4 separate regions of the Homo sapiens genome follow, and regions 2, 3 and 4 are each reported to be linked to region 1. The links are microRNA targets in miRTarBase. Many come from high-throughput screens and were not tested one by one. Region 1 holds a microRNA gene; each other region holds the end of a gene's coding sequence.
Evidence for each region. Region 1 holds the annotated microRNA hsa-miR-19b-3p (UGUGCAAAUCCAUGCAAAACUGA, at 4,145-4,167, shown strand). A microRNA usually pairs through its seed, bases 2 to 8, with sites in the 3' UTR of a target mRNA and lowers its output. Matches are read on the target gene's strand: a 7mer-m8 pairs with bases 2 to 8, a 7mer-A1 pairs with bases 2 to 7 and ends in A, and an 8mer does both.

Region 1 (7,712 bases):
GCTGCGTAGTTTCCAGAAAGTATCACGCAGACGTGCCAGGGTAGGCTGCAAGGTCTGTTGCATGAAAAAGGGGAGGAAGCCCACCTGTGCGAGTGACTCGCGTTGGAGAAATGATTGTGGTTTTCGTTGCATCCACCGCTGACTCCTGAGGGGCGCTGGCAGTTCAGGTTGGACTCTTTCGCGGGCCAGGGGCGGGAGAGGCCAGTCTTTTGTAATGTTTGCCTGAGCTACTACTGTGCACCAGTGCACCAGGTTGAGAATCACATGGCGCCCTTGTCCTCTTCTGGGCTTTGGGCTGCCACAATCACCCTGGTAACAATGGTGGAAAGGGAGGGGTCCGGCTTCATTTTGCACCCCTTCCCTCCTTCCTTGCCCCCCGCTTGCCTTCCAGGGCTTTCCTCCTCCGACCCAGCGTGCTCACTGGTCTCTGATTTGTAACCTCGTACCCTGCACACCCCCGCCCACCCCCCCAACCCCCGCACGCTCCCCAAATCCCATCTTGCGCCTGTGTCCGCCAGGGACGCGGAGAAGGTATATAGCCCGGTTGTCTCTCATTTTGCCCGGTGTTCAAAGTCTGGTATGCTTAATTCCATTTTGATTGTGCGTCTTAAACTAAGACATCATTTTATTCTACAGAGCGCTGTCGGGCTTTGGCCTTGAAGCAGCCCGCCCTCAATTGGTTCTCATTAGCGGTGGAATGAGAGGAGAAAGCAAGATAATTGCACCGTATCTTCCGCACATTTGCGCGTGTATTCGGTGGCTGCTACCGTTAACGATACCTGCCAAGAAACCCTGATTTAGTGGGTGAAGAGGGCGCCTGGCAAGGGCGAAAGCCTCCCAACAGTAGCACAAGGTGCTAGGGGTTAAAACTTTCACATGTGCAGAGAGTAAGTCGTGTTTCTATTTCTTCCCTCCTCGGGCCTTAGGAACACTTTCAATCTAGCGGCGAGGTGGCGCGCATGCGCGCGCCGGGTGGGGGACACCCCTGTCCCACGGCTCCGTGGGCCTCGTCGTCTGTCTCCGGTGGGGGGCTGAGGCGAGCGCCGCGGGAGCGAGATGGGACAAGGTGGTAGTGAGTGCGCCATCCTGGCCCGGATGCCGGTGGCACCCGCACCGGCTCCGGCCACGGCCTCTGCCTGGGCCGCTGTCCCAGGCGCGCCTTTAATTAAGGACTCCAGCTTGGGGGAAGAGAGAAGGGAAAATGCCGACTGCGGTCCGCCCGTGGGTAACTGGGGCTCGGTGGGGTTTTCGCTTTGGCGGGGTGGGGGTTCCGTTTCCTAATTCCTGTGCGGGCCGGGTGGGCGGGGGCGGGCTTTTTTCCTTGGGCTATTAAAGGCAGAGGGGCGGGCTTTTCCCAGGGATATAGCTACGGACAGAGGGCCAAGGGGACGGAGCGCTCCTCAAGTGGTGGCAGGGAGGCTCGTGGCCCCGCGTCGCTCTGGACAGGGGCGCTTTGGGGTGAGATGTGCGCTCGCGGCCTTGATCCATTTAGTGGACGCTTTTTCTCACTTCTCTTCCCCTTCTGGCTCCGCGGGAGACTGCGCTCGCACCCGGCCCCGGAGCGCTCGAGCTGCGCGCTGGGACACTGGGTATACGTGTGGAGGGGACACCCGGAGAGGGCGGCCCGTGCGGGATCCCCGCGCTCTCCACCTGCGAGGGGCGGGCCGGAGCTGGGTCCCGCGCGCGGTTTCCCGAGCGGGTGGCTGGGCAAGAAGGGAGCCCTTCGTTGGGGCAGCTGTGATCCGGTAGAGTTGACTGGTTGGGTGGGAGGGGACGGAGCGGGCGGGACTTGAGAAAAGCAAAGTACCAGAGTGCGGTTGAGGGGTAGCGGGCAGCGCGCGGGAAACGACTCCCCTTTTCTTCTCCACCGTTGACCTTTAGGTTCCTGGAAAACTTTGGTGGTGAGGGTGTGAAATGAGGGGGTGCACGTGGAGGGAAAAAAGGGACTCCCCTCCCTCTTGGCTTCTATCCCACCAACCCGGGAATGGAGGGGGAGGGAGGCGTGGGCTTGGCGCGTTTTTGGTGCTTTGAATGGAGAACTCCGTTTCCCATGATGCTTTGTTTCTTTCTCTTTAATTTCGGCGGCGGCTGAGGCTGCACGAGGACTGGAGCGCGTGGTGTGAGCAGCTGGAGCACACCCTGGACGCGCGGGCTGCTCGCGGACTTCAACGGGAGCATTAGGTAAGGGTGTGAGAGACGCGGGAAGAGGCAAAAGGGAGCCACAAAGGCGTACAGGGAAGGACTTCTTTCTTTCTTTTCCTTATTATTATTATTATTATTTGCAATTTAAGGGGATTGGAGAGTGACTGCCCAGCGTGCGCGAGGGATGCCAGATGAACCGCTAATTAGCAAAAGGTAGTAACTAGAAGGGCGCCCTGTCTGATGGCTGTGGGGCTCAGTTTGGCCAGGTTGGGTTGGCAAATACTATGCATTTTGAGTCAAGTTTGGAGTATTTTTTTTTTAATGGAAAAGAAATCTTCACAGGTGTAGAAACCCAATTTAAGGGGAAAAATGTTATTTTTCTCATTTCTATACTAAATCCATTCTTCCCTAATAGAAAATTGATTCCAGATTGATGTATAAGTTTTATAAATCAGTTTAGTTTGTAAAGACTTCTAAAGACTCATTTAGTGGCATAAGATATCGTGACGAAAGTTCAACATTTAAAATTCCCTCACTCGTTTAACGTATTACAGATTCTGTCCCAAACGTTTTTGTTTTTCTTTTAAACAAAAGTTACCCCATCATGGAAGAGATAGGGGACCCTGTGAGCCTTTTTCACATAGAGGCTCACTTCCTTGCTGTATGTTCTTAGGTAAAATAAGCACTTGGAAATGGGAGAAGGTTTTCTTATGGAAGATAATGACATGAAGGGAAGAAGAGCTAATCTGCCTACTTTGGTTTAATGGAGAAAATGGGTCCATAAATGTTTAAACAGAAGTAGAGCCCTTTGAAATAGATCAAAATGTGACATCTCTCAGCCATCTGTGCATTATGTGAAGACTGTAAGGCTGTGTTTCTTAAACCAGCTCTAAAATTTCTCTCATTTTCTATTAATGGGGTGGGGGCTGGGAATATTCATTTAATCTAACAGTCACTTTCCGTATGGAGCCCAAAAGCTCTGAATGATCTGAAGACTCGAATACTCATCCTGGGTTTTACATGCTCCTTTCTCTAGGTCCTCCTCTTATAAAATCAGGGTGGATAGAATGTGCCTGCAAATTACTGAGATGCAGATATCAAATTTTCTTAGATGGAGAGGGGGAGTCCAAAATCTGCTTATACATAAGAATTGGACTTTTTGCAGTTGCCAGTGTTATTCGTGTTCAATTCTGTGTAAATAATTGAGATTATTAATATTTCTCAGGATTTGGTTGAAACCACAAAACCTAGCTTAGACTCTGTAAGCCAAAGGAAAGCCTGTTTCAGGAATATTAACTAGTAGTTTACTTGTTTAGTTTCTAATATGTGTGTGTTTGTTTTGTTGTTTTAACCAGGTGAGTCTGCATGGATCTGTGAGGACGGAAAAGAAGAGCTCCTGGAAGACTTAAAATTTTGCTACAGGAATAGGCCTTGGCCATGTAAAAGTGCTTACAGTGCAGGTAGCTTTTTGAGATCTACTGCAATGTAAGCACTTCTTACATTACCATGGTGATTTAGTCAATGGCTACTGAGAACTGTAGTTTGTGCATAATTAAGTAGTTGATGCTTTTGAGCTGCTTCTTATAATGTGTCTCTTGTGTTAAGGTGCATCTAGTGCAGTTAGTGAAGCAGCTTAGAATCTACTGCCCTAAATGCCCCTTCTGGCACAGGCTGCCTAATATACAGCATTTTAAAAGTATGCCTTGAGTAGTAATTTGAATAGGACACATTTCAGTGGTTTGTTTTTTGCCTTTTTATTGTTTGTTGGGAACAGATGGTGGGGACTGTGCAGTGTACAGTTGTGTACAGAGGATAAGATTGGGTCCTAGTAGTACCAAAGTGCTCATAGTGCAGGTAGTTTTGGCATGACTCTACTGTAGTATGGGCACTTCCAGTACTCTTGGATAACAAATCTCTTGTTGATGGAGAGAATATTCAAAGACATTGCTACTTACAATTAGTTTTGCAGGTTTGCATTTCAGCGTATATATGTATATGTGGCTGTGCAAATCCATGCAAAACTGATTGTGATAATGTGTGCTTCCTACGTCTGTGTGAACACACCTTCATGCGTATCTCCAGCACTCATGCCCATTCATCCCTGGGTGGGGATTTGTTGCATTACTTGTGTTCTATATAAAGTATTGCACTTGTCCCGGCCTGTGGAAGAAAGGAGGATTTTTATCGTCTTCTTATTTTAACTTTTAAAAGCCGTAAGTTCTGATATTTAGTCATTGTAAAATGATCTGTTTTGCTGTTGTCGGGTGGATCACGATGCAATTTTGATGAGTATCATAGGAGAAAAATTGCACGGTATCCATCTGTAAACCGCAGGACCTTTGTTGGCGACATTCCTGATCAGCGCTACAGTAAGCTAGATGGTAAAAAATCCTTTCTCTAGTTGCTGCTATTAAAAAATAATTTGAAATATATTTGGATTTCTAAAAACTATGATAGCTAATTTATAAAGTATGTGTTTTGGAACTTTGGTGAATGATCAGATTGTTACTGAATGTGAATGAACCTCAAAATAAATGAAATTTATAGATCTGAAAAAATGACTCTTTTTTTTTTAAAAAAAATAATTAGCAATGCTAGAGGAGTTTGTAAAATATCTCTTGGGAGGATCCTAAAGGAAAACTTGGACATAGCTGCTTTTCAAGTTTGCATCTACATAAAGCACCAAGATGCCTAATTTTAGGAATTTTATTACCCTGACAATATTTGGATGACATGTACTAATTTTGTTTTAGTACACGTGCTCATTCTTAGGAAGGGAATGAAGAGTTGTAAACCAATGGGACACATACCTTTAAGGAACTGGGCACATTTTGAGGTCTGACAGGAGAGAAGAATGAACTTGTCAATCAAACTCTGTTTTGGGGTTCTCGGAGAAGAGGATTTGGTGGCAGGGCTACTGAGAGGGATGGCTGCTGCCTTGCTTTGGAGTCTAGCAGATGGAAACCTGGATGTGGGCCTACTGTTAATATTTAGGGTTCGGGGGCTCCATAGGGTGACTAACCTAAAGCAGAAATTTCTCATGCGCAGCTAATTAGTGGTTTGAGACTGAACACCAAAAGTTATTTGGATCCTCTAGTGGTTCTTAAAACTTTAGCACTTACTAAGACACAGCCAGCCAACCCCATCTCCAGAGATTCATTCAATAGGTCTGGATGGGGCCTAAGGAATTGCATTTCTTTATTTTTTTCTTTTTGAGACGGAGTTTCGCTCTTGTTGCCCAGACTGGAGTGCAATGGCCCGATCTCTCATTCACCACAACCTCCACCTTCCGGGTTGAAGTGATTCTCCTGCCTCAGCCTCCTGAGTAGCTGGGATTACAGGCGTGCGCCACCACGCTTGGCTAATTCTGTACTTTTAGTAGAGACGGGGTTTCACCATGTTGGTCAGGCTGGTCTCGAACTCCTGACCTCAAGAGATCCACCCACCTTGGCCTCCCAAAGTGCTGGCATTACAGGTAAGGAATTGCATTTCTAACCTTTCCCTAGGAGCTGATGCTGCTGGTCAAGACACCATACTTGCAGAACCACTGCTCGAAAACAGCTAACGACAGCTTCTAGGACAAAGTTAACAAAGGAAGTTGTTTATTTTAAACTTCATAAAATTAAAAGAACTCGAAGCAGGGACTGGCTTGCTTTCCAGTTCTATGTTTCATATTTTAATGTTAATCTTTAACATCATGTATTTGGCAAATGAAGAAACGAGGCTTGTGGTAGTTTTACTGTCTGCCAACATGAACATTTAGTTCTCATCAAAAAGGTGCTGCCAAACTAAAAGATGGTATCAGTATGTGTCATTCTTACTTCCTGGTGCCATGGAATTTTCTAATTTTGAAACCCTTTTGATTTTTCCTCATAACATCAGTCCATTTTAATCAGTAAGAGGAACTCTCTCTGAATTGCATTTTAATCTTGAGCTAGTTGCCTAAGGCTTCAATTTCCTCATTAGGGGAAATACAGTGATAACATTGGTCTACCTCAAGGATATGTGGGTTAAGTAAGTTCTCTGGTGGTGGCGGCTGGGGGGATGGATTTTAATTGTTAGTGATGAAGTGAAATCTTAATGAAAAGAGACTTAGGGTAGTAAATTCTGTCGTCCAGTATTAAGTATGTGTGTGTAATTTTTTAAAAGTGACTAATGCTTGAGGCAATTATACAAACATAAATAACTACAGGTATTTCCTGTGTTGTCTAGTGCTGACTACGTTGTTGGTGCCTAATCATAGTTAAGTTTGATGTGGCAGCAAAGAAAAGGGTCTCCCGCCCTTTAATAAAGTAGCTCAGTAAAAGAGGGGATTAAAGCTTATTTGTTGTAATCCTTAACACCACCAAACCTCCACTTTAATAATACAAATTTATTGTCCTAGTGGTTCACTGGTGCTTTACCTAACGTGGCTAGTATGCAGTCAGTTATTGCAGTTTCCACTTTTAATAGGCTTGTGTGGAGGAGCTGTGTTCCTTAGGGTAGGCCACTCTGCCCACTAGAGTCAATTCCCTCACCTAAAGTTAGGGCCGAACTTGATGATCTGAGGACCCTTTCTAGCTTCAAAAATTCTGATTCTATATTTGCTCAAGTTAGACTAATCCAATAATTCTTTTTTTTTTTTTTTTGAACATTTCATCTTTTACTTTTTAGGACCAACAGACTTGATAACAGCCTGATGCTGATCTGACAATGGGTTGACAGCCTTCCCCCACTGGCCCTTAAGTCTGCTTAATAATAAGTCCTTTGCTTCTGTCATTCTCCTGGGGGATGGCCTACTGCCCTCCTTTCTGTACAATCTGGGCAAACCGACTGGTGATGGCAAGAGTGGTGTCAATGAAGTGGTCTACACAGCTGGAGAGACAATTTTCAGTGCAAGAGTCCAGGCGATTCCCTGGCTTCTCCACACATTTATCCCAACATAACTCCATGAAGTGATGCACCTGTGCAGTAAACTGCGCCTTCTGCTGTTCGGCGGCCACCAGGTGCTGCAACTCCGCTCCATCGGCTTCACCCAGCTCCGCCTTTGTTCACCTCAGACTTATCCAATAATTCTTCAAGTGTTTTGCATTGAAGTCATTTGTCTAGAATACTTGGGAATGGGTTAATTTAAGTCATTAATCATGGGCAAAATTAGTAATATCTACATACGACATATATAGCTTGCTCATTTTTAAATAATTACAGTAAGTTCAGTAGAAGCACTGCCAGGTATAATTTCTATCTTTGGTTCAGATGGTAGTTTAATATCCCATGGCTTTCCAAGGTCATCAGTATGGGCATTCATTCCCCTAGACAGAAGAGTCAATGTGGCACAGGTATGAATGAGCCTAAACATATGTCAACTTGGAAGTTGCTTTTTTGGCAATTGTCAGTCATATTAGTTTTGAAACAAGGGACATATAGCAAAAAGGAGGGGAAGTTATGGTATAAAATTGTAGCTGAAAGAATCCCTACTTACAGATCAGAGTCCAGCTTTATTCTTTATTAGGTGAGGAAACTGAGAACCAGGAAGAAATGACTTGCTCAAGGTTTGAGTAAATAAACAAATTAGGGACCAATATGATCAA
Region 2 (7,712 bases), not on the chromosome of region 1:
GCTCAAGTCCCCCACAGTCGAAATCTGCTAATCCAGAATGAAAATGGAATCATTAGGATAAAATTATCGAGTGTGTTCAGGAGCGGCTATGCCAGTGAATTTCCAGCCTGAAATGAAATCATGACTTAGGTGTATTTATGAGTATCTGTTTTAAAAACCACTGTGATAGCTAGCTATCACCTCAAATTTTGAAGTCGTTTCGTTGAGTGTGAAAAAAAGGAGAAGACATTTCAAAGTGCATTTAGCTATTTAAAAACCCTTTATTCACTGAGTGTGCTGCTGATTATTACATGTCTGTGGAAGCTTCTGGAGCCAGTGGTGGAGAGGCAGATGTGAATAATCAGTCGAGATGTATATTGATATGACATTATGAACCAACAGAGGAAATCCATTAACGACATCATTTGCTCTTCCTCTGGGGCTCAATTTATAATTATTTATGTTCCAAACAAAACAAAACAAACCCTTTTTGCTCTTTTAGTACTCGGGAGAGCCTGGCTTCCAACACATCAAGCATTGTTGAAAGTAACCGTCGTCAGAACCCCGCTTTGAGCCCGGCCCATGGTGGAGCTGGTCCAGCCTTCAACTTCCGAGCGAGCGCGGAGCCCCCGACAAATGAAGCTGAGAAGCTACAGAAACCTTCCAACTGCTTGCAAGCTTCTGTTACTAGCGTGTGATTGTCCTTCTGCCTCAGATCTTCTGTCTCATTCGATACAGCAAAGTTTACGACACTGGGACTGATGTTTACATCTTTGGAAAGACAAGCATCTCAACCACAGTTTTTGTGTTTACTTAAACTGTGCTGCTAAGTAGGGCTAGGGCAAAAAAACAAAAAATCTTTATTTCAGAGTATTGCTTTTCACATTTATGGCTCTGTAGCAACTGAGTAACAGTAGGGGTGATATGTATACTTTTGCTTCACTAATTGTATCTGAGCACACATAGGAAAGTCTAGACACTGTAAGTGTAATACGCATTTTCAATGTCATGCAGTTGCCAATTCCATTTTAAAATGCCACAGATGCGTGTTGCTCCCAGTCTGTGGTTAAACGGTGCCACAGAACTGATCCTTGACACTTCCAAAAAAAAAAAAACAAAACAAAACAAAAAAAATTTAAAAAAAAAAAACAAAAAACAAAACTAAGCTACCACGAAATGTCAAATGCAAGGGTCCACCTTGAGGGAAATAGATGCCAAACTAACTAGAAGGGACCCCGGCCCTTTGTGTGTGAATTGTTTATGCACCAGTCATTTTTCACTGTGAGTTTTCGTGACACTATTTTGCAGGAGCCCATGGAAGTGTGTGAGAAGGGGTCGCAATGGAGATCACTGGGAGTGAATGTTTTCAGGGTTTTGTTTTGAAGTGTCACAGATGCTTGTCTGATTTTTTTAACCTTCCGTGATCACAAACAGGAATATAGGCCTTTGAATCTGAAGTGGACAAAGGAAAGCAATTTCCAGTCTGGCTGGGGCACAGCATTAGGTGATTGAAAAGGTGATGTGGACTTGTAAAAGGTGTTACTCAAATATTGAAGGAAGAGAATTTCCTCCTTGTGATACTTAGGATGACCCTATCTTACTCTAATAGATACAATAATTAGTTTGTTTAAAAGCAAAATGTTCTTTGTGATACAAATGAAGAGTAGGGCCTGAGGATGTTATTCTTTCTAATGGAAGGACATAAATCTATTTTATGTAGTTTTAAATAGAATGCCTAAATTAGGCTGTGGGAGATAATTTTTAGTGGTTGTAGGAAAGAGCAAATTTAGGGAGTGTTGAACTTCAGGCCTTTTATTCCTGGGAAGATATGTATAGAGAAAACTTTTAAAATAATTTTTGATTAGAAATATACATGTGCCCATGTAATAAACAACAGAATGTGCTCATTCTGCTAGTGCGGTATAATCCGAATTTGTACTCCCCTAAAATTTATCAGAATAACAATTATGCATACATGAACTATGCCAGAGTAATGTTTACAGATACTTTGTAACCAATTTCAGGAGGCGTTTTTAGCTGGATGTGTAGTTAATTAGACCAACTTATTTCCAAATGGTTTGTTAACATTTTGCTTTGGTTTACAATGTCATGTTGAACACAAAGAAGACCCAGCAGCAAAGGGATGACCAATAATTTCATCTTATAGCAAGGAGACATTCCAACGTTCCCATGTTTTATTTTCTGAGAACAGTGGGACAGATCTGTAGTAATGGAATATTATTTGCAAAAGGGTTACATATGACACAAGTAAGTGTTCTGACATAAAGTTTTATTTAGTTCAGTGGCATGTGCTGTTGGGAGCCATACACCATAAAATATATATATCCCAAAATAAATCTAGAATATTTTCACCTCCAATTTCAGTAATTGGCATATGATTTGTGAGACGCATCTGTTTTTGTATGAGGTTTAATCACTAGCAATCTGTTTAAAGAATCCAGTCCTATACACAGTTGGACTCATTCTTGAAACCTTTAAATGCTCCCTCATAGTTTTTCAGTTATTTGGAAGTTGCATTGGGTCAAACTGAACTCCTTGAGTTTGGTGTAAATTCCTTTTTTCTGCTTATTATAGTGAAACTTCAGCATGTTTCTTAGTAAACTCCCATACCATTGAAATGCTTAAGCCAGTTGGCTTTCAGTCTCATGCCTTATTTCCTCCAAGGCATGCCTCAACGCATTGTTTGTCTCATTGCTTAAATATGTCCAGAAGGAATGATCATGTATCTAATAGACTACATAGTTGGTTCCCTTGGGGAGTTATATATCATACAGTTACTAAATATTTGTCTAAATTCATTTTTTCCAAAAACCTGCTCTCAAATTTTTCTTCTACTCTCAGTTCATAAATAATATAACCATTGAAACAACACATCAGCCTCTAGCTGATCCTCTGAAAGTAGCCATTGAAATAATCGAATACTGTGTGAACAGGAAAGGAAAGCGTTACCTTTAAGAGAAGCTTTAAAATAGGAATTTATTGATATTTCACAAGATATAGGTTTACAGAAGACATTATTCAAATAAATATGTACACTATTTGCCTGATGCTATGGGGTACATAATTTTTTAAAAACTCCCTTAGACCAGCAGCCATTAGTGTAGAAATGATGGACTTTAAAGGTGATACCATGTAAGCAGATGTTGCATATAAAAATATTCCTGCCTGAATCTGATCGAGATTCTTGAATGGGGGAGGAGTGGCAGCCGGCAGCACATTGCAAATGTCATTCGAGGTCACGGTGAGGCTCTCGGTCCCGGAACAGTGGGGGCCTCGCCAGGCGTTGCCAGTATCCCTTTCCTCCTGTAAAATCATAGCTTTGTGTTACACGACTGCTTATCCAGTCTTAGGGTTTAGCAGCTGAAAGGTTTACAAAACTGAATCTGGTTGAATCTCTGTGAAAGGGTCAACACATCTGTCGGCATTTTGCACACTTATGTATTATTATGATACAACATATTACTTTATGGTAATTTTTATTTTTACATATAACTACCTCCATAAATTTGATGAAATGGCAGCCGTGTGTTAAAGTGTATCGTTCAGAAGAGCAAAGTTGAACACTTCCTTCAACATTAGGGCATGGCGTGCTGTGTGTGTCAGTGATTGCCTCTGTGGACTCATGACTTTCCATCGCCATGGCTTTCTCTTACGCCGCTGTTTGGCTTTCAGATGTAATCCTGTCTTCTCCTCTCTTCCCCACGAAAGCGCACTCGATTTTGTTAGGAATGAACGGAAGTTTAAAAATTCTTGTGCCCACCCCCGCCCTCCACCCATTCCTGTTAAAAGTTCTCTGGCGAAGAGCCAATGGGTGAACGTAATTGAAAGAGCTATTTACTCTTTTGGAAATCTGATTTGAAGTCTAAGTTTTCAGTAACAGAAGACACACAAGCAATGTGGACTGCCAAGCTTGAAGCACTTCGGGCTCTGCCTTCACTCGCATGCTACCATGTCGAGCCCAAACTCCACTTTAATTAAAAGAGCTGTGCTGTGAATTCCACAACTTCTGTTAAATAATTTGTATTCCATTATATATATTTTGCACATCTCAGGGGACCATAATGAACATATGAAAGGGGGGGGGGTGCCATCAAATAGAGAAAACAAATAGAAGAGGTGAATGGAGACTAGCTGGATAAAAATAACAAATTACTTCTTCTCTGATGTTGTGAAGGTCAGGTTCAGGAAGCATCAATTCACAGTTAATCCGGAGTAACAATGATCTGAACACCAGCTGTTCCCAGGTCCCTCTTTTTCATAGCCCAACCAGCATCTAAAATGTAAATTTAAATTACATTGCAGTCACCATGGGGAGAAGAAACCTGTTCAGTGGAAGCAGAAGCATTGTTCCTTTTTTAGGTTGGCGCAGCTTTGCAAAACTCTACCCAGGATAAACCACTTATCACCACCAAGTGTACTTGAAAATAAAGTTTTTAACTTAAATTACAAGCATATTGCTCATAATACAATAGTGATCATTTTTTGAAAGTCTTGCCATTTATAACATGGGCAGTATTTGGAGCTTCATTTAAAAACCAACAACAACCGATAATGACTTTGCACGATTCACTTTGGGATCTCAAAGTGCTTCCAAAGCATTCAGATTTACAAACAATTCACAAGACAGGTCATCTTTGTAATACGCATACTTACAACGAATTAACAAAAGGAGTGACTTAAGATTCTCCAGGAACACAGTGGCAGCTATTGATGATCTGTTTTCTATCTGTTTGATAGAGCATCATGAGAAATCACAAAATACAATGCTATTTTTCTGATGTGTGCTAATAAAGTCAAAGAAAACAAATACATCTTGACACTTTTGTCCATTTTCATTAAAAAAAAAAAAGTTCAGGGTGTTTGGAATTTTACATCTCAGCACACCTTACTGGTATCAATGGATAAAGCGGGTGATTGACAGATCCACCCAAATGCCACTGCAGTCAGAAGCAGATCTGGACACACCCTTGTTTACAGTTTCATATTGGGTTGCTATAGTTCCCGTGCTAAATCACCAGCTTTCAGGAACATGACTGCTCCTGGCAGTGGAAGGTGCTGAAACAGAAATTTTAATTAAAAACTTTATCAAGTACTCTTCACAGTGCTGCTTGGCACCATAGAAAATCAGTACAATATATCGAGCCCTACTTTGGAGGAGCTGGATTTCTGAGGGAGCTGATCCAGTTCTAAGTGTCTTCTCGAATTAGGAGATAGATGATCTTTGATGGGGATCTCCTCCGTCACCACAGGCCAGTCACAGAACCAACTAGCCACGTGCTGCCAGACCTCAGTGGGCCCAAGCAGGAGCAATCTCTTCTATCCCCCATCTCCCCCAGGACCATCCCGCCCATTGTCAACGTCATCCAGGGCTCTTCTGGTAGTGAGTGACTTTTCTGCACATGTTTAGGGCTTGGGGGAGCTAGAACACAGGAAACATGAATGCAAAAGGCATGGAAAACACTGTTTTGCTTTGGGTTAGTAAAATGTGGGCAGGACAAAGATTACTATTGGTCTGAGCTTTGCCAAGTGAGATAGAATCAACTGTCACCCCATTCCTTTCCCAGAAGGTCTTATGGTATTAAGGATACATCCAGTATTTTCCCACAGATTTTTATTCAGGCGATGTTTCATAAATTACATATATGAAAACATTCATTATTACATTTCCTTGTGTGTTTCAAACAGACATTGGCACCTTCCTATTGAGTTAATTCTCTGCATCTTTTGCAGCAGCAGCCCACAAGGAGATTCCCAGAGATGGCTCCCCTAACACACAGTCCTGTGATTTTACAGTTCTATGACTTACAGTTGATGATTCACAAGATTCAGGATTCTACAAGACTCAAGGGGGAACTAAACTTTCTTACGATTGTACATGATCAGTTATAGGGCTGTAATCATTAATTGTTGGCTTCAAATGTGGACACACACACACACACATCATGCCAAGGAGGGAATGGGGTGTTTCAAGTCAGGCAGCGATGATTCTGGAAGGTTGGAAATGTAAGGTTAGAAGCTTGGCTGGTCTTAGTAAACTTGTTCCCTTGCTCCCACCAAGAAGAGGTACCAAATGTGAGACCTGAGATCTCCTCCAATATCTGTCCTCTGCAGTTCCGGGAAACTAATCATGAAGTACACATGCAGCAGCTCCTCCACTTCCTTTCCTCCGAGGTCCTCCTTTCCATTCTCCCACCTAGATACTGACACACCGCCACGGTTTCCACATTGGAAGGGCAGAACACTGTGCAGTATCGTGCACACTTGCTGGGTTAGGAATAGAGCTGCCCTAGGGTCACCTTCATGCAAGTATTGACAGCTACAAATTAAAGTCCTTAGAGCAGTTGACACAGATACTACGTTCTAGAAGAGAATTAAATTTAAACGTCAAGTTTAAAGGGATCATAATTCTGCAGGTATCTTTCTCTGAGTGACTGAATGTGACTATTGCATTAGGGTAAATGAATTAAGACGTGCAAGTGGGATTTACTGTATGTTAGAAAGGAGTTTTGCAGCCAAGACTGCCTTGAATAAAATGTGTTTGCACTGAAAAAAAATTTTAAATTACTTGGTCTCTGGTTGCTGTAAAGGTCATCCAAGATGGATGTTCTGTTTATATTGTATAGTATTTCATATGAAATAATTACAGTTCATGAAATGTCTTCCCTAATGTTACTGATTTATAACAGCACATTTGTAACATGGTTTTTATCGTGTCAGTGTACCATACTGTAAATGATGATTACTTGTCATGCTTAGTATAATAACTTAAAAGAAAAAAAAGGACAGGGATTTTTGTAAGTCTATATTTGAAAGTCCCTCCCTATGGTGATACTGTGTTCATGTTGTTTATGTAGTGTTGTGTGAAATATCCATTTTGGATTGTGTTACTTTTTAAGATATTAAATAACATTTGGTTATATGTCTTAAGTGGATTTTTTTTGGTACTTGAGAGAAAATATTTTAGGTGAGGTTAATTGACTTCTCTCTTCAATTAATAGGATTTTATAACATTGTGATTACTCAATATTATTAGAGCTTCTGAGTTAAAACAACTAAAAATGAAAATTTTCTGATCAAAATTCTTTTTCCATGAAAGTTGGGGGAAAAAAATCACATTTTTAGGTAACTGAATTTAAAACAGAGTGAGAGAGATGCCTATAACTACATTTTCTATATGAAATTATAAAGTGATGTGATTAGGTCTGGGGTTTCTTTTTCATTAGCACTCATGTCTCAGCTTTTGTTCCCAAGTGGATGGGATCCTCTCCCCAGTAAACACGAGGAGGCTGCTCACAGGTTCCAGTGAGTCACTTGCACAGGTTCGGAATCCTCCATGTTTATTCTCCTTCAGCTGTCATTCATTCTTCTGAGTCTCTCACTGTGGCAAATCTTTGCCCGTAGAAAATGGGCTTTTTCAAACCAAAGGGATTTGCTGCCCCGTTAATGATGGAGCTAGGAAATGGTATTCTCAGTCAAAAACAATGAGCCATAAAGTCGAGCCTGATTTTCTTATAAAGGCAATATCCAAAGTAGACTTCCAAAAATTGTTGTGAACAATGACAGTGTCTACGGATAAGTGTCTGGAGACCCCAAGGTAACTGCTTTGAAGAACAAGTTGTATTTTGTTGCGTAAGTTTGTCTATATATTTTAAACTGTCTCAATACAGACGTTTCCTTTTTCAGGCATGAAGTTAGGAAGAGCAGGAATACTG
Region 3 (7,712 bases), not on the chromosome of region 1:
CTCTGCCTTAGTGGTTGATTTAACTCCAAGAAATCCAAACTCAGCCATCCTTTTGTCTCCCGTGGAGACCCCCTACGCCAATGTGGATGCAGAAGTTCATGCAAACCGCCTCATGAGAGAGCTGGATTTTGCAGCCTGCGTGGAAGAGAGGTTGGATGGTGTCATCCCACTGGCTCGCGGGGGCGTCGTGAGGCAGTACTGGAGCAGCAGCTTCCTGGTGGATCTCCTGGCTGTGGCTGCCCCCGTGGTCCCCACGGTTCTGTGGGCATTCAGTACTCAGAGAGGGGGAACGGATCCTGTGTATAACATCGGGGCCTTGCTCAGGGGCTGTTGCGTGGTTGCCCTGCATTCGCTCCGCCGCACCGCCTTCCGTATCAAAACCTAAATAGAAGTTGTTGTTACCGTGTGCCAATGTGTCCCATGTGGGTTGTGCCAGGTAGAGAAACAGGAAGTCAATCATCTGTGACAGTCTCTATTCTGTCGTTTTGCTCCTTGGTATTTGATTTGCACTATATTTAGTTGAAGCCTGTTCACTGTTTAAAACCGGAGGTATCTTCAAAGGCATGGAGACCTGGTTCCAGTAAATGTCCCACCAGTGGGGTATAGAAAGCATGCTCATGACCCTGCCGTGTCGTCTGAGGTACCCGTTCTTATCCTAGTGGTTCAGGAAGAGAAAACGCAGTTTGCACTTTCAAGACAGCTTCTCTAAGGCTGGCATGTTATCTCCTTGCTTTGCTTTTTGCCGTTTTAAAATGTGTAATTGTTCCAGCATTCCAATGGTCTTGTGCATAGCAGGGGACTGTAACCAAAAATAAACATGTATTTGTGTAATTGGTTTGAAGAAGTCTTGAATAGCTCTTTACTGTCTTACTTGGGGTTGATAAGATTTGAGTGTTTGCAATTTTTTACTAAATGTAGCTCCAAAGTCTTAAATGGCTTGTTTGTTCTTAAACTGTTAATTGATGAAACTGTGCATAAGTTTACAATGTACTAACTTATTTTGCTTATTATATATAGTGTTTTATTGGAAATTGTAACCACACACTTCAGCATGATGAAAATAAAGATTAGTGTTTCCATTTAAATAAATGTTTTATCCTCCCATAAAATAATAATTATTTCTGTGATTTTACTTCTATGTATAAGAAAGACAATGAATAGCAGATCTTACATCTTTATCAATAGGGGGTCTGTAAAAATTGAATTAAATTAGGAAGAGGGAAAAAGAGTTAGTTATTAAAGAAAATGAAGATTTCCTACCCTTACTTAAAAAGCATCATTTCTGAATAAAAGTAGATTTGTTTACTTTTAAATTGCCCATACACTATTTTGTCCATATGTTTATGCAGTAAGTACATCTTGAGTGTTTTCAGGAACATTGGGTTGATCTAAGCATGCTAGGTGTTCAGGAGAGGGAGAATATGGTAGTGCCATATAGCTTCCTTCCCCAGAATGATAGGATGAGGGTGGGTGGCTGGGAAGGGATGAGAAGGTATTTGATCTATGTTCATCTAGTGCTTACACCAAAATTTTGAGATTAGTATTTTACACATATCTTTGAGGGAACTAAGCCTCAAAGAGGAAAAATGTTCAGGATCTCAGAGCTCATCTCCAGAAGCCACGATTTCAAGTGTTTGCAAAAGCAAATGCCTTTTCTACTTTGCCACACAAAGGGAGGATAAAGAGGCTGGATAATACCCCAAGTTCTCATCCAGAAACTCTTCTTCCATAGCACTTAACACCTTTAAATATACCACCCTTTTACTTACAATGCCTTGGTTATTACCCATCTTTCCCACTGAGATATTAGCTCCATGAGGGCAGGGATCTTTGTTCTGTTTTGTTCACAGCTGTATGTCAAGAACCTAGAACAAATGAAAGAATAAGACTTAGAATTTGATAGCACAACAGGGAACCTATAATCAATAATAATTTAATTGCATATATTAAAATAATTAAAATAATATAATTGGATCGTTTCAACACAAAGGATGCTTGAGGGGATGGATACCCCATCTTCCATGATGTGACTATTGCATACACATTGCATGCCTGTACCAAAATAGCTCATGAGCCCTATATAGACACCTACTGGGTACCCACAAAATATTTTTAAAATATTTTAATTTTCTACAAATAAATTAAAATTTAACAATAACTTAGTACAGCACCTGGCACATAGTGGGAAGTCTAAAAATTGCTGTTGAATGAATTAATTAATCCAGCAAATATTTACCAGGTACTCCGATGCTAACTGGGCACTTTCCAGGATGGGTCTTAAAAAGTGAAGGAGACAGAAAAGGTTTCTGTCCTCAGGAAGCTTATGTTCTGTGTCTGTGAGGGACACAACATGCCATCAAATAAACAAAAGATGGTTTCAGATAGTGGTAAATGCCTCAAAGGAAATAAGGTATTTTGACCAAGTGTGGCAGAGGTGAAAGTAAGGAACACATCTCTGAAGAAATAACATTGGTGGGAATGGATGAAAAAGAGTCAATCATGCAAAAATATGGGACAAAATCTTGTTGCAAGAGGAACAAATGCAAAGGCCGTCAGACAGAAAGGACTCAGAGTGTGACAGGAGCATCCTGGAGGTCAGTGTGGCTGGAGCAGAGTGAGAAGGAAGGAGAAAGTTGGAGTAGACAAGAAGCTGCTTCATATGGGGCCACACAAACCATGGTAGAGGTTTCAGTTTATTCAAGAACGCCATTTAGGGGTCTATTGTAATGTCCAGATGAGAGATGATGCCAATTTGGAGGTGGAAGTAGATACAGAGTTTAAGTTGAAAAATTACAGATATAGCTTGAAGATAGAACTAATGTGATTTGCTGATGGATTAAATGTGGAGTAAGGAAAAGAAAAAAAATAAGGGTGACTCAGGTTTTTGGCTTGAGCAATTGGATCAATGGCGGCCATATTTGCTCAGAATGGGAAGAGTTCAAGAGAAACAAGTTTGGGAAAAATAAAACTGAGATGTCTATTAAAACATCTATGTGAAGATATCAAGAGTAACTGCATATATAAATGTGAAAATCAAGGGAGCTGTCAGGACTAGACTTATAACATTGAACCTTTCTGGCATTTGTGTGGTAATTAAAACCATGGGAACAAGTGAGGTCATCCAGGAAGAGTGTAGAGAAGGAAAAAAGGTCAAAAATGGATTTCTGAGGTACTTCTATATTTAGATAGAGGTGGAGGATGAAGAACCAACAAAACAGCCAGAGAAATGACAGCCCAAAATGTAGGAGCAAAACTAGGTGATTAGTAGTATAAAAACCAAGAGAAGAGAGTAATTCAAGAAGAATGGAGCAGTCAATTGTGTTGAAGTCCCACCAAGAGATTAATATGAGAATAGTTACATATTCACCGGCTTTGACAGCAAGGTCTTAATGACTGTGTCAACATCATTCCTTGGAGAAATGGGGATGGGAGGCCAATTGGAGCAGGTTGAAGAGTGAATGGAAGCGAGAAAGTGAAATATGTGCTGCTGAATTTTTTTGTTTTATTAAGTTTTACAATTAAGGAGAATAGGAAATTGAGTGGTAGTTAAAAGGAGACATAAGGTCAAAGGTTAATTTTTCAATATTGAGAAGAGACAGAACATGTTTGTATGCTTTTGTTATTAGGCCAATGAAGAAAAACAAATTAACGACTTAGCAGGGAAAAAATAAGAAAAAATTATAAATTAATTGAAGAAGGAGAGCCTTTGAAAAGAAGGGATAGGATCCAGGGCATGGGAATGTGTGTGTGAGGAGAGATGGTTTGTCTCTGATAGGACATTCCTATTGGAATACACACGTGTCTCAAGCACACACATTTGTATTTACATGTCTTGCAGCTCTAGTCAGCAGTAGAAGGATTTGTTTGAAATGGAAGGGAAACTATTTCTGAATAATCGGAAGTGTCCTGAAATAATGAGCCATGCTGACTCAGGTCCCTTCCTGTAGTCCAGCCCAGATCAATACTTAGATACTGGTATCTTCCTTAAAGTCCCTCCTTGTGCTTATTTGCAGTCATTGCTAAAAGCATTTTTACTTTAAAAAGATTATAAGCCTGTTTTGAGTATCTGCTTGTTTCCATAGAAACAAATATAACTACACAAACTCAGCATTGTTCTCCATCAATTCAAGTTGGAGGGAAAGGATAGGCTCTGGTTAGAAAGAATTCTCCACAAACCACAAATATTTATTAATTGTCAGATTGGATGTAGCTGATCACCAATAGCAAATAGTTTTATTGTCTTAATGTCCTATATCCTCCTTTACATAAACCAAAAGATTCAAACAACCCATTGGAGACACTGGACACCCCCTCACCCTCCCTCTCCTGCTTCTTTAGGGTTTCAGCTGTATAGTCTGTGGAAAATTACTGCTTTTATTCAGAACAGTCTCTCACAAATGAGTCCCTTGGAGTAAATAAAAGATGGAACATGTTTGCCTTTTGGAAGCCCAAGGCATTGGCTGGTTTTGTGGACAGGATGATCTGATCCCATAGAAAGAAGTGCCTCGAAGTTGCTTTCAGTAATTTGAGTGCCTATGGTGTACAAACAGGCAGGAAAATGAAAAAAAAACGAGAACAATTCCACTCTATTGAACAAATTGCTGTCCCATCAAAGCAAATGTTAAACATTTCCTACAGTTATGTGTGCAAACATTCCAATTTATAAGAAAAGATTTTTCCCAAAGGGATATGTTGACCTTTCCAAGTTGAGCTGTTCAGAAAAGAGGGGAAAAAATGCCATGCACTCAGATGCCAAGCGTTTCTGACATTTGTGGCAGAAGAAAAAGGAAGACTGTGATTTGCATTAATCTTTGGCCCTGCCTAAGTAGTGGTTGGGTCTGATATGTTTTCCTCTTGAGGGTTTTTCATTTTAAAAGATTTGGGGTAGTTTCCCATTTCCATTTTGGGTCAGTGAGCACTTGAAAAAATATTATTTCCTTCCAATCTTGCCGGCAAAATGTGCACAATGAGGCAGTAGCCTAGGAAATTAATAGTTTATAACAAATCTTGAAAGAATGTCAACAAACTCTCAATTGTCCTGAACAAAAACAATTAGAAAGTCCAAATAGAATAAAACAGGCTTATATCAGGTAATTATTTTAAACCCACTGGATGCACTGCTGTGACCACTGATTTTCCCACAATCATAATGATTGTTATAACTAATGGTTACAATAATAACTTCAAAGAATTTTAAAATTTAAAAAAGGTTTAAGTTCTACTTAGAAGACCTTTTGTTAGAAGGTTGAAATATTTTTAGTAAGCATTCAAGTTTGTTAAAAGATGTACAACTTTAATAAGTATTTTAAACACTCCAATATATAAAACACATACAAATGACTGCACAGGCGGGAAGCCCTGCCATTGGCCTCCCCCTGGCCCCCTGCGGGGGTCCTGGTATTACTTCTGAGAAGAGCTTGCATGTCATTTCCCTATATACCAGGTTCTTTGAAAACTTCCAGTTCATGTAAGATCTCACGTATGAAAACTGTTACTTGAAATACTGCTCTGGTTAATGCTGAAGATATGTTTCTCTGTTGCCCTAAATAAGGAATGCTTAACAAAATTGTTTTCTAAACCTTTGTTACAAAATTTTGTCTGCCAGTGCTTTGTTGGTCTAACTATGAAGAGGACTCATTCTCTCTCCCTCAGATTATAGAAGCCACGTAAGTATCTGGGACTATCATGATACATATAAGATGACAATGTATTATAAAATCAAGTCTGACTCCCCTTGTGAATATTAAAGGTAGGTATCATGGCTTCTCTAATTTGATGGTGCAGTTAAGACCCTCTCTCCCCTTCCTCGCAATTAAAGTAGCTCACAATGTTTGAAATGGTTTGCCAGCCTCACTTTCTACAGTAAACAATAGGTGCTGGCATTTAAAACTGACCTTTAATTCTTCTGAACCAGCACATTATTTCTAGCTTGTTGGTTGTATACAGAAAATGAAAAATGAAAGCTGACAATAATTTTTACATCTCCCACTGGAAGCTGTACATGGACAAGTTTTAAAAATGATCGCCCGTGCACTGTCTCACTCCATAAGGGCTCCTTCTAATCAAGACAGATTAGGTAATTACGAGGTTCAGATGCACTGCAGAGCCTCACAAAGCAAAAAAAGCACTTGTATTTTCACATTTTAAACTTAAATGTGACAAGCTAAATATATCTATATTCTTATGCACATCTTCACTTAGCACTGCAATAAAATGCTGAGTTAATTTCAGAGGCCACTATATCTGACGATGGTGTTTTCTCCATAAAATAGGTAAGCACTGCGTTTATTCAGGAATAGTCAACAGGTTTGGAAATGGCATTGCTGTATAAGAATTCAAATTAAGGTTTGAATATTTTAACAAATAAAACTAATTATGGGCAGTAGTTAATATCTTATAAAGAGCCAAAATTGCTCCAAGAATAAGTCAACATACTGATCAGAGTATGTCCTTTGAATTTTCTATACAAGGAGATGTTTTCTTCTGTGCCATTCATTCTCTCAACTAAATCCTAGACACTCACTAATAACTGACAAGGTCAGGGACAGTTTGTAGCAGGAAGGACTCTACGTACGATACTGATCTGCACATGCATAGAACCTGTGGCCTTGACCTCATTATAATTATGACCCAATCAAGTGAGCTAATTGGCTTATTTCTGCAGTTGTGTGAATATAAATCAATTTCATTTTGCCTTATCTGACCCAAATAAACTGCAAATATGAAATTATATGGCACTGATATTCAACTACAGTTGTCATTTATATGAAAATAAAAACCAAGCTAATTTTCTTCATATTTATTAAATTATTAGAAAACACAAATGGGTATTATCTACTATAATTTGTAATGCTATCTTCATTAAGAACTAGGAGAAACTTTAAAAGGCATTTTGGCGGCTCATAGTTCCGTCAAGAGAGGCCTTAGAAATCATAGTCTACATAGACTGTTGATTAACCACTATTATAACCTCCTCTCTAAGGTTGCTATTTTCCATTCCATTAATCAAGTACACAATTTATTTTCTAGGCCTTGGTTTCCTTATATGTGAAATAAGGGTAGTATCTCTTACAGGATTGCTAAGAGTCACTGATATAATTAGTCAAAGACTCAGACTTACAATAAATGTTTTCTTTCTTGCTAAATTTCAAGTTCAATTTAAAGGTGTATAAAATACTGCAAGATTAGGCAACTTCTCCCACTCTTTGCAGGGAAGGGGCTGCCAATACCACTGCATGGTGAGATGTGGGAAGTATATAGGGCCTCATACCAACTTCCAATTATTGAGTGCTTATACTGAACACTTATGTACAGTCTCAATCCTTACAACCACCATTTCCATTTAAAAGATTTGCAAACTCTGGCAATTTGTTTAATGCTGTACTACCTCTACAGAAGCTCTGAGAACTCTGGGAACCTCTCAGAGCCGGGGTGATCTGATCAATGTATATAAGGAAAGCATCTACAGAAAGATCCCCTGAAAAGAAGTCCCCTGAAAGGGAAGGCTGGGATTATCTTGGACTGGCCGCAGACTTTCAGTGAGCTTCTCTGCAAAAGTTTCCACTGGTGAACTAGCAGTGTCAGCAGGAGGTATGAAAGGATAGAAACAAATCTGTTGTTGAAGGTAAAAGATGGTCAAGGAGGTCCCTAGAATAGAGTGTTTCTTTCAAGCTATAGAAGATCGAAGGTGTCTGGTGAAAAAGCATTTTACT
Region 4 (7,712 bases), not on the chromosome of region 1:
CACTTGGTTATAAAAAGTAACGCTTCTTATGAAGTTTTACATATAAGATGAAGTGAGTGGACCAAGAAATTATAATACATTTTTTATCATCAAAGAGTTGCATCAACCAGGCTATAGCACAAAGTCTGATTTTCAGTACTGCCTCATGACAGTAAATATGCATTTTCTAGAATGGTGCTGTCCAGCAGAACTTTTGTGACAATGGAAATATTCAGTAGCTGCCCTGTCCGAGGCAGTAGCCACTAGCTACACATGGCTACTGAGCACTTGAAATATGGCTGGTGCAACTGAGAAACTGAATTTTTAATTAATTGTAACTAATTTAAATTGGAAAAGCCACTTGTGACTAGTGGCCATCAAGTGAACACAGTTCTGGAAACTGGATAATTCAGATTTTTTTACCTAGCATCTAGGGAATTGGAGATACTGACTTAAAGGATATAATTATTTTTTAAAATAGGGCTTCTAGGCTGGGCACGGTGGCTCATACCTGTAATCCCAGCCCTTTGGGATTCCGAGGCAGGCAGATCACCTGAGGTCGGGGGTTTGAGAACAGCCTGGCCAACATGGTGAAACCCTTTGTCTACTACAAAAATACAAAAATTAGCCGGGCATGTTGTGGTGCACGCCTGTAGTCCCAGCTACTCGGGAGGCTGAGGCACGAGAACTGTTTGAACCCGGGAGGCAGAGGTTACAGTGAACTGACATTGCACCACTGCACTCCAGCCTGGGCTACAGAGAAAAAAAAAATACAGCTTCTAGTTTAGTGAAGAAAAGGGCAATTTGAGGGAGAGAAAAGGAACTGCGTTCTGTGTGAAAGGACAGAGAAGCCTGGTGATCAGAGAATAAGATCCCAAGGCACTTCACTGGGGCTGACATTCAGGGAGCCTCCTGGAAGAATCATTTCAAAAGCAATTGCAGTCAAAACAGATTTTGAGAGCACTCTTAGACCCAGAAATGTATAGTTGTCTGCATGTAAGTGCTAAGGCTAATAAAAATCAGAAGACATTTGGAAGACATATCCTTGAATTGAAAAAAATAATAATTGAATATAGCAAATGCAAGTTCCCACTTGTTCAGCAATCTGTTTAACTTCTTATCAGAGTCATTGTTAATACTTCCTTTTGTTGTACATGCCAGTGCCTGGATATCTAACGTACAATTTCTTGTGCTGTCATTTCCACTTTCCTTTTCACCAATATGACCAGTAAATACAGTAAGAAATAGACACTATTGATACAGAGCCTGGATAGTCATTAATAACAGTAATGTTAGTATCGTATTGAGCACTCACTATGTGTCTAAGCTTTTGACAGGTATTTGGAAGATAGGTAAGCACTGGATAAGTATTAGTTGTTTGTTGCTACATGGTGTCTTCACTCTAAGAGATACAATTTTTAATTGTGATGGAAATGTAGAGGGTCACTGGTGTTTATCCACATGGGAGCTATAACTAAGAATAGATGGAACAAATTCATACTTTTTCTAATGGGGGAACTCCAACAATCTTAGCTCTGAGAATTTGCAGAATACAGATCTAAAAGAGGGTGGAACGAATAAGGGAGGTAATACATCCAGAAGCAGAAAAAATGCTGAAAAAAGCTAATAGCTGTGACTGAGTTGCCAGGGACCCCTTCTGGGACCAGGCACACATGGTTGCTAGTTGAAGAATCAAACAAAACAGTTGGAAGCCAACAGAGGGTGGGGACAGTTGTGTTTAGTAGGTCAGGAGTCACATACCATACTGCACTAAAAGTATATAGCTAATGCATACTGCTGCAAACCTGCAGTAGTAAAAAATTTGACTTCACATTCTTATCAAGTCTTTTCATTGCAAAAAACTTTATTAGGCAAAAGTTACTTTTACGTTTTAAGCTGAAGACTAGAATAACTGCTATCACTAAACAGAGAGAGTGGATACATAAACTATTTAATCATTCTTCTTGCAGTTTTAAAAACATTTTCTCATCTCTCATTCTCCCATCCCCTCCACCCCATTCCCCTAACATGAATTTTGTGCCATGGTTCCATTTTACAAGGAACAGTACTAGCCCCCTGAGGACACCAGGAAATGGTAACCTCACACCCTGCATTAGTAGAATTGAAAATCTGTTTTTCTGCCATTTATCCTTACAGTATAACTCTCCTCTTTCACATTCTGCAACTGATCTAGTGCTTAAAACAAATGGAGTCTTCAAAAGCACCAATAGACAAGGATAAAATTACACATACAGACAGAGTTTCCATATGAGAACATTAATGTAAAACTGGGCAGAGGGTCAGTTTCTTAGTCTCTTCATTCTCTGAGAGAGTTTTGTGATGGATCAGAATGTAATTGCTCCCTCTTTCCCACCCCCAGGGAAAATATGTGTCTGCAAGAGCTTATTATGAGAGAGCCTTACAGCTGGTTCCAGACAGCAAACTGCTGAAGGAAAATCTTGCCAAATTGGATCGCCTAGAAAAACGATTACAAGAAGTTCGAGAAAAGGATCAAACATAGCACCACCGTCTGACCCAACCTCATAGGATAATGTGGTGCCTCTGAAAGGGGAGTGATGGAAGCCTTGCTTTCACATCAGCAGGGGCACAACTAATGAGATTTTCTCTCATTCCGAGTTCAGGGTGACACATTTTGGGACATCTGCTGGTAGCCCAGTGCTGAAGGACTTGCTTTTCCATGAAGAAGACGAAAACAGCAAACAAGGGCAAGAAGGTCTGAGAGGGAAGGAGAATGACATTTACACATTTTACAGATTTTTGTTTGGTTTAACTCCAGATTTCTCTTGATATATCTCTGTGCTTTTGAGACCTGGAGATCTAATTCTGTTTAGACATTTTTTGTCCCAGAAATACAGAAGCTTGAAATGCTATGAAGGCAGAGCTTCTATTCTTTATGGGATGAAATATTTCAAAAGAGGATAAATCCTCTGTGGTAAGCCATTTGGAAAATCCTACCAAGAATTGGCTTATTTAATTTTCCAGAACCAGGAATGAGTATCTAATAGCTTTTGTAGAACCTTCCAGAATATGTGGGGAAAAAGGGCTATTGCTAAGTGAGCTTTATCTAATATCCTCCTAAGAGTTTTACTAGTGCTTTTTTGAGGAATTACAGGGAAGCTCCTGGAATTGTACATGGATATCTTTATCCCTAGGGGGAAATCAAGGAGCTGGGCACCCCTAATTCTTTATGGAAGTGTTTAAAACTATTTTAATTTTATTACAAGTATTACTAGAGTGGTGGTTCTACTCTAAGATTTCAAAAGTGCATTTAAAATCATACATGTTCCCGCCTGCAAATATATTGTTATTTTGGTGGAGAAAAAAATAGTATATTCTACATAAAAAATTAAAGATATTAACTAAGAGAAATGTCCTACTTTATTATCTTAATGTTCAGACATCATGAGATTTATTATTTTTTTGAAAAATATATTGAACCATTGAGGAACCTTTATGATGTATCACAGAAATCTTCATAGATTCTAACTAGATGGAAAAAGAGCTCTATTTATTTGTGTTCCTAGGCTTAATGAGAATTCTGGGCTTAGAACATCAACGATTAATACCCAGAATTCTTTGTTTTGAGAATATTATGGAGAATGCTCTAAAAATCTAGGGTAAAGATCTAAATTCAAATTTTAAATATATATTTATATTTAAGAAATAGGAAAGGCAAAGTTGAACTCACAATTTGACATTTATTTTTAGTGTTATTTATTTCATAACTTATAAAATATTTAATATATACATACACACTCTTCTTTTTTCTCTGTACAAAGTGGTTTTAATATCAGCTTTCAAAACTGATCTTATAAAATGTAAATCTAAATTGTAAAATAGTTAAGTTTTAACAGTCCCTCCCAAACTTTGTGTTGATTATTCACTTGCTAAAGAGATGTGAGGAATCAGCCTTCAGTTTTTTGGCAGTAGTATATTTTGGAAGTGAAGAAATTGGAACACCTGTTTCTAATTTGGTCTTCATCATTAGAGACAAAACCAAAACACTCCAGGCAGTACTGTTTATAGTGCTGAGCCAGGTAGCACACAGACATAGTAGCCTAAAGGCTCACATAATTCGCATGCTCAGGCCAGGGCAGGGTAAAAATAGCCTTCTGCTTCTTTCAACCCAGTATCAGGAAGCACTACCCCAGTGTTATTATTTGTTTTGTCAAGGTAAGTCTAAATAAACAAGAAAAACTTCTTCGGAAGGCATGGCGAAGGGAGTATTTTAAATGAAAATGATTACAGAATTTGAATTAGCATGCATCTCTTTGTGTGCAACAGTAATCCAAGAATGTATATGTTACCACTACAACCATTTGTTTCTAATAGTTTTTTCATGTTATATAACATAAATGTATCCACAACCTTAATTAAGAACTATTCTTCCCCCAAAATCATAGTCCTAGTGTCAAGAAACATACTCCAGTGTTTATTGTAAAATAACAACCACACCCTCAAATTGAAAAAAGTGAATGTCTAGGACTTTATTACAACTTTTCAGAATAATCTGTAATGAAAACTCATGCTTAAAAATTTAATGGAAAAGACTGAGCCCCAAATTTTGAATAGTGATTACGCCTTACTTGAAGTGCTAATAAAGGTAGGAGAGTACATTTGTTGGAATAACAGAAATGGTGATTTCAGCCTAAAAGTTTCTGAGGGTAAAGGATCACATGACCTTCAGGAAACTCTCTGCCTCCTGTAGGTGCTTTCCTATCTCCCCCATCCTTCCCTACCCCTTTTCCCTTTTCCTTCCTCTCTTTTTCTCTCACTGTCACTCTGTCTACACACACTGGCATCTTTTGAACACTAAAAGTAAGCACTGTTTTTTAAAAAAGTAATTATTTGTTGGATCAGATACTTTTATCCCAAGTGAATACCTTCACTGAGATGTGGCCAATGCAATAGTTTCACAGTAAAAACAGTGCCTATAAGAAAATAGATCACATACTATTTTTCAATGATATTAAGTGTATTTTGTAACTATTTTCATTTGGTCCTTGTAACATGAAATAATACATGGAACTTACCTTTATAATAAAAATGGAGTGCCCTGGTTCATCATAGAGGTGCATCTAGTTTGCCCTTAATGGAAGTATACTTGCTGTGTGGATTGATAGCACCTTCTTGAAATGGAGGAGCTCAGCTGGCCTCATGGATGTGCAATTTTTGCAGTCCCACAGGGCCTTGCATACAGAAGCACCCCGAGCTCAGTTGAATGTCTGTTTGATTTTTTCTTATTTATTTTTTTGAGACACAGTTCCACTTTGTCTTTTTGTCACCCAGGATGGAGTTCAGTGGCACAAACATGGCTCACTGTAGCCTCGACCTCCCTGGCTGAAGGGATCCTCCCACCTCAGCCTCCCAAGTAACCGAGACTACAGGCATATGCCAGCATGTCCAGCTAATTTTTGTATTTTTTGTAGAGACAGGGTTTCACCATGTTGCCCAGGCTGGTCTCAAACTCCTGGGCTCAAGCGATCTGCCCACCTCTGCCTCCCAAAGTGCTGGGATTAAAGGCATAAGCCACCATGTCCAACTGAAATTCTTAATAATTAATAATTTTTGAGCAAGAGGTCCACACTTTCATTTTGCACTGGGTTCCCAAACAGGTCCTGGGTAGGAAGGATGGCTGAGGATAAAACAGGAGTTGCTTTGGCCTGGCTGAACATTTGAACCAATGATCAGAGTTTCATTTTATGATTGTGTTACTCTGAACAGATTTGCTATTTTTTTCCAGCTACATTTAGAGTTCCTCATGTATATATCACCCCTCTTTTTCCAGTCCATCTAACCTCTCCTTTTTTTTGTGCCTAGAATCAGTTCTCCTTGCCTTCAAAATCCCTGATAAGTGTCCATTTCTTTTTGTATCCTTTGATGTAGAAGCCACAAGAATGGCTTTAGCAGCTTATTTTAATCTTATGAATTATTCATTCAGGATTTTTTAAATGATTCAGATGCTTTCAATCTGTTAACAGTATTTATAAAACATGTTTCAGTGATACAACATAGGTGAACTAAACCAAAGATGCAAATGCCTTGGAGGAAAAGAAATTGTATTATAGAGAATCCTGAGATATATCCTTTTGGGTTGTTTAATTTAAAGCCTATCACAAAACAAAGAGAATTGTCGCACTTTAATTCCAACCTCCTGCAGTACTTCACAACCCTTAGCATAAGATTCTGAAATTTGTAATAGGTGGTACCTAGTTTGATGCAGGGTTTTGCAGCAGTTGTGCGAATGCCTCTGCGCAACGGCCTTTCAGTCAGACTAAATGAGAAAATCCAAACTGTCCTATCAAAACTGACCCACAATAACTGTACTCTGAGGCGAAACAGAGCAAATGTGGGTTTCCTGTTTTCATTGTAAAACATTCCAGGTTCTCAGATTGAAGAGCTACATTCAGCTGATAGTTGACATCTGTTCCCTCACACGTAGTGGCTCTCAACACGGGCTGCACTTTGGAATCACCTGAGGACCTTTCGGAATCTTCGGTTGAATCATCCTGGCTGTCCTGGTGATGCTTCTTATGTGCAGCTAGGCTGGAGAACCACTACAGGGCTGACACCTGGAATGGGAGCTTGTAACTTTTACAAAATAATAGATGTTTATCATCTTTTGCAATTTTTACTTTTAAGTCTATACTAAAATGAGCCAAAGAAGTCTTAACAATGATGTATGGCACAATTGGTTGGTTGAGGCTATCATTCCATGATTACAAATAGGTGGTTATGTGGGGTGGTTTTGCACTTGTGGCAATTGGACTGCAATTTGGCCTTAAAATGACACAATTCCTCGTTCTCAGATGGAGAGGAATTGCCTTGAAATTTGCATGTACCAGACTAAGTGCCAGTATATATATGACTGATATTTTCGTGACTCATAGAAGGTGTCCATGGTATAGAGTTTATGCCTACATCTCTATCTTTATTTTGGGCACACATGAGCTTTTGTTAATTATTTCTTTGTACTTGTTAGAATCTGTTTTTGAAAAAAAAAAAAACTTTTGCTTTGATTTGTGGTGGATTCACCTTCTTAAAATAATAAATTTAGAGGATATTAGGAATGACATTCAAAACAAATATAGTGAGAGGTGATTTTTTAAAAATTTTTGTTCCTGGTTTCCAAATTATGTTTACTTTGATTTGATTATATGTTGGTATCTCCCAAATATAGGTTAACTTAGCTATTTAAATGGTATCTTTTGACATTTAAAAAGAATTAAGTACCTGTCAAATCTAGCATTGAGGTTGCAGTTGAATAAGATAAAAGCTTAGGATGTCAAAAAATAATATAGAGAAATATTATAAGATTTTATGATTATTCTTGACGTTTTTGATGCAAAAGGAAAATATGCTGAATAGTTCTTCCAAAAAATATTATTTCCCTCAATATTTTATTTGTAGCCATGTAATTTAAAGAGAACAGAAAATAACTGCAATCAAAAGTATGGTTTAATATCAATCAAAGTGGCACAACAGAATTGATAAGATCTTTATAACAATCAATTGGCTGATATTAAAATATTGATTTTAATTGATCTTTTCAATTAAAATCTTTAGGGCCTGTAACTCATAAAATCAGCATCCACCACAATATATGGTCATTATTGGTTTGTAAGCATAGATCACCATTGACTCCTACCTGGAGAGACATGTCTATTTCTAAAAATCCAGTAGTTTCTTTGCATTCTCAGTAGTACACGTTG

Region 2: the mRNA of STOX2 is a reported target of hsa-miR-19b-3p. Seed matches in the 3' UTR shown: 8mer at 3,426-3,433, 8mer at 4,039-4,046, 7mer-m8 at 4,557-4,563 and 7mer-m8 at 6,538-6,544.
Region 3: miRTarBase lists SYBU as a target of hsa-miR-19b-3p. Seed matches in the 3' UTR shown: 7mer-m8 at 504-510 and 7mer-m8 at 683-689.
Region 4: miRTarBase lists TMTC1 as a target of hsa-miR-19b-3p. Seed matches in the 3' UTR shown: 7mer-m8 at 5,594-5,600 and 7mer-m8 at 6,748-6,754.

Annotation. Positions count from the first base shown.
Region 1 is chrX:134,166,138-134,173,849 of GRCh38, reverse strand. MIR19B2 (microRNA 19b-2) reads left to right here and starts at 4,084; the gene lies at 4,084-4,179. MIR106AHG (miR-106a-363 cluster host gene) reads left to right here. Exons shown (of 2, transcript XR_007068340.1): 1 at 1-2,181; 2 at 3,498-4,700. MIR363 (microRNA 363) reads left to right here and starts at 4,398; the gene lies at 4,398-4,472. MIR92A2 (microRNA 92a-2) reads left to right here and starts at 4,238; the gene lies at 4,238-4,312. It also overlaps MIR20B, MIR18B, MIR106A and the pseudogene TIMM8BP2. RefSeq lists an enhancer at 890-1,697.
Region 2 is chr4:184,016,608-184,024,319 of GRCh38, forward strand. It overlaps STOX2 (storkhead box 2), which reads left to right. Exons shown (of 4, transcript NM_020225.3): 4 at 482-6,919. The coding sequence ends at 677. Among named protein-coding and RNA genes, the nearest start is that of STOX2, 120 kb to the left of the region's middle. RefSeq lists an enhancer at 581-1,080.
Region 3 is chr8:109,567,579-109,575,290 of GRCh38, reverse strand. It overlaps SYBU (syntabulin), which reads left to right. Exons shown (of 7, transcript NM_001099754.2): 7 at 1-1,313. The coding sequence ends at 385. Among named protein-coding and RNA genes, the nearest start is that of EBAG9, 31 kb to the right of the region's middle. RefSeq lists an enhancer at 241-470.
Region 4 is chr12:29,501,634-29,509,345 of GRCh38, reverse strand. It overlaps TMTC1 (transmembrane O-mannosyltransferase targeting cadherins 1), which reads left to right. Exons shown (of 18, transcript NM_001193451.2): 18 at 2,360-7,712. The coding sequence ends at 2,500. Among named protein-coding and RNA genes, the nearest start is that of OVCH1, 7.8 kb to the right of the region's middle. RefSeq lists an enhancer at 5,591-5,760.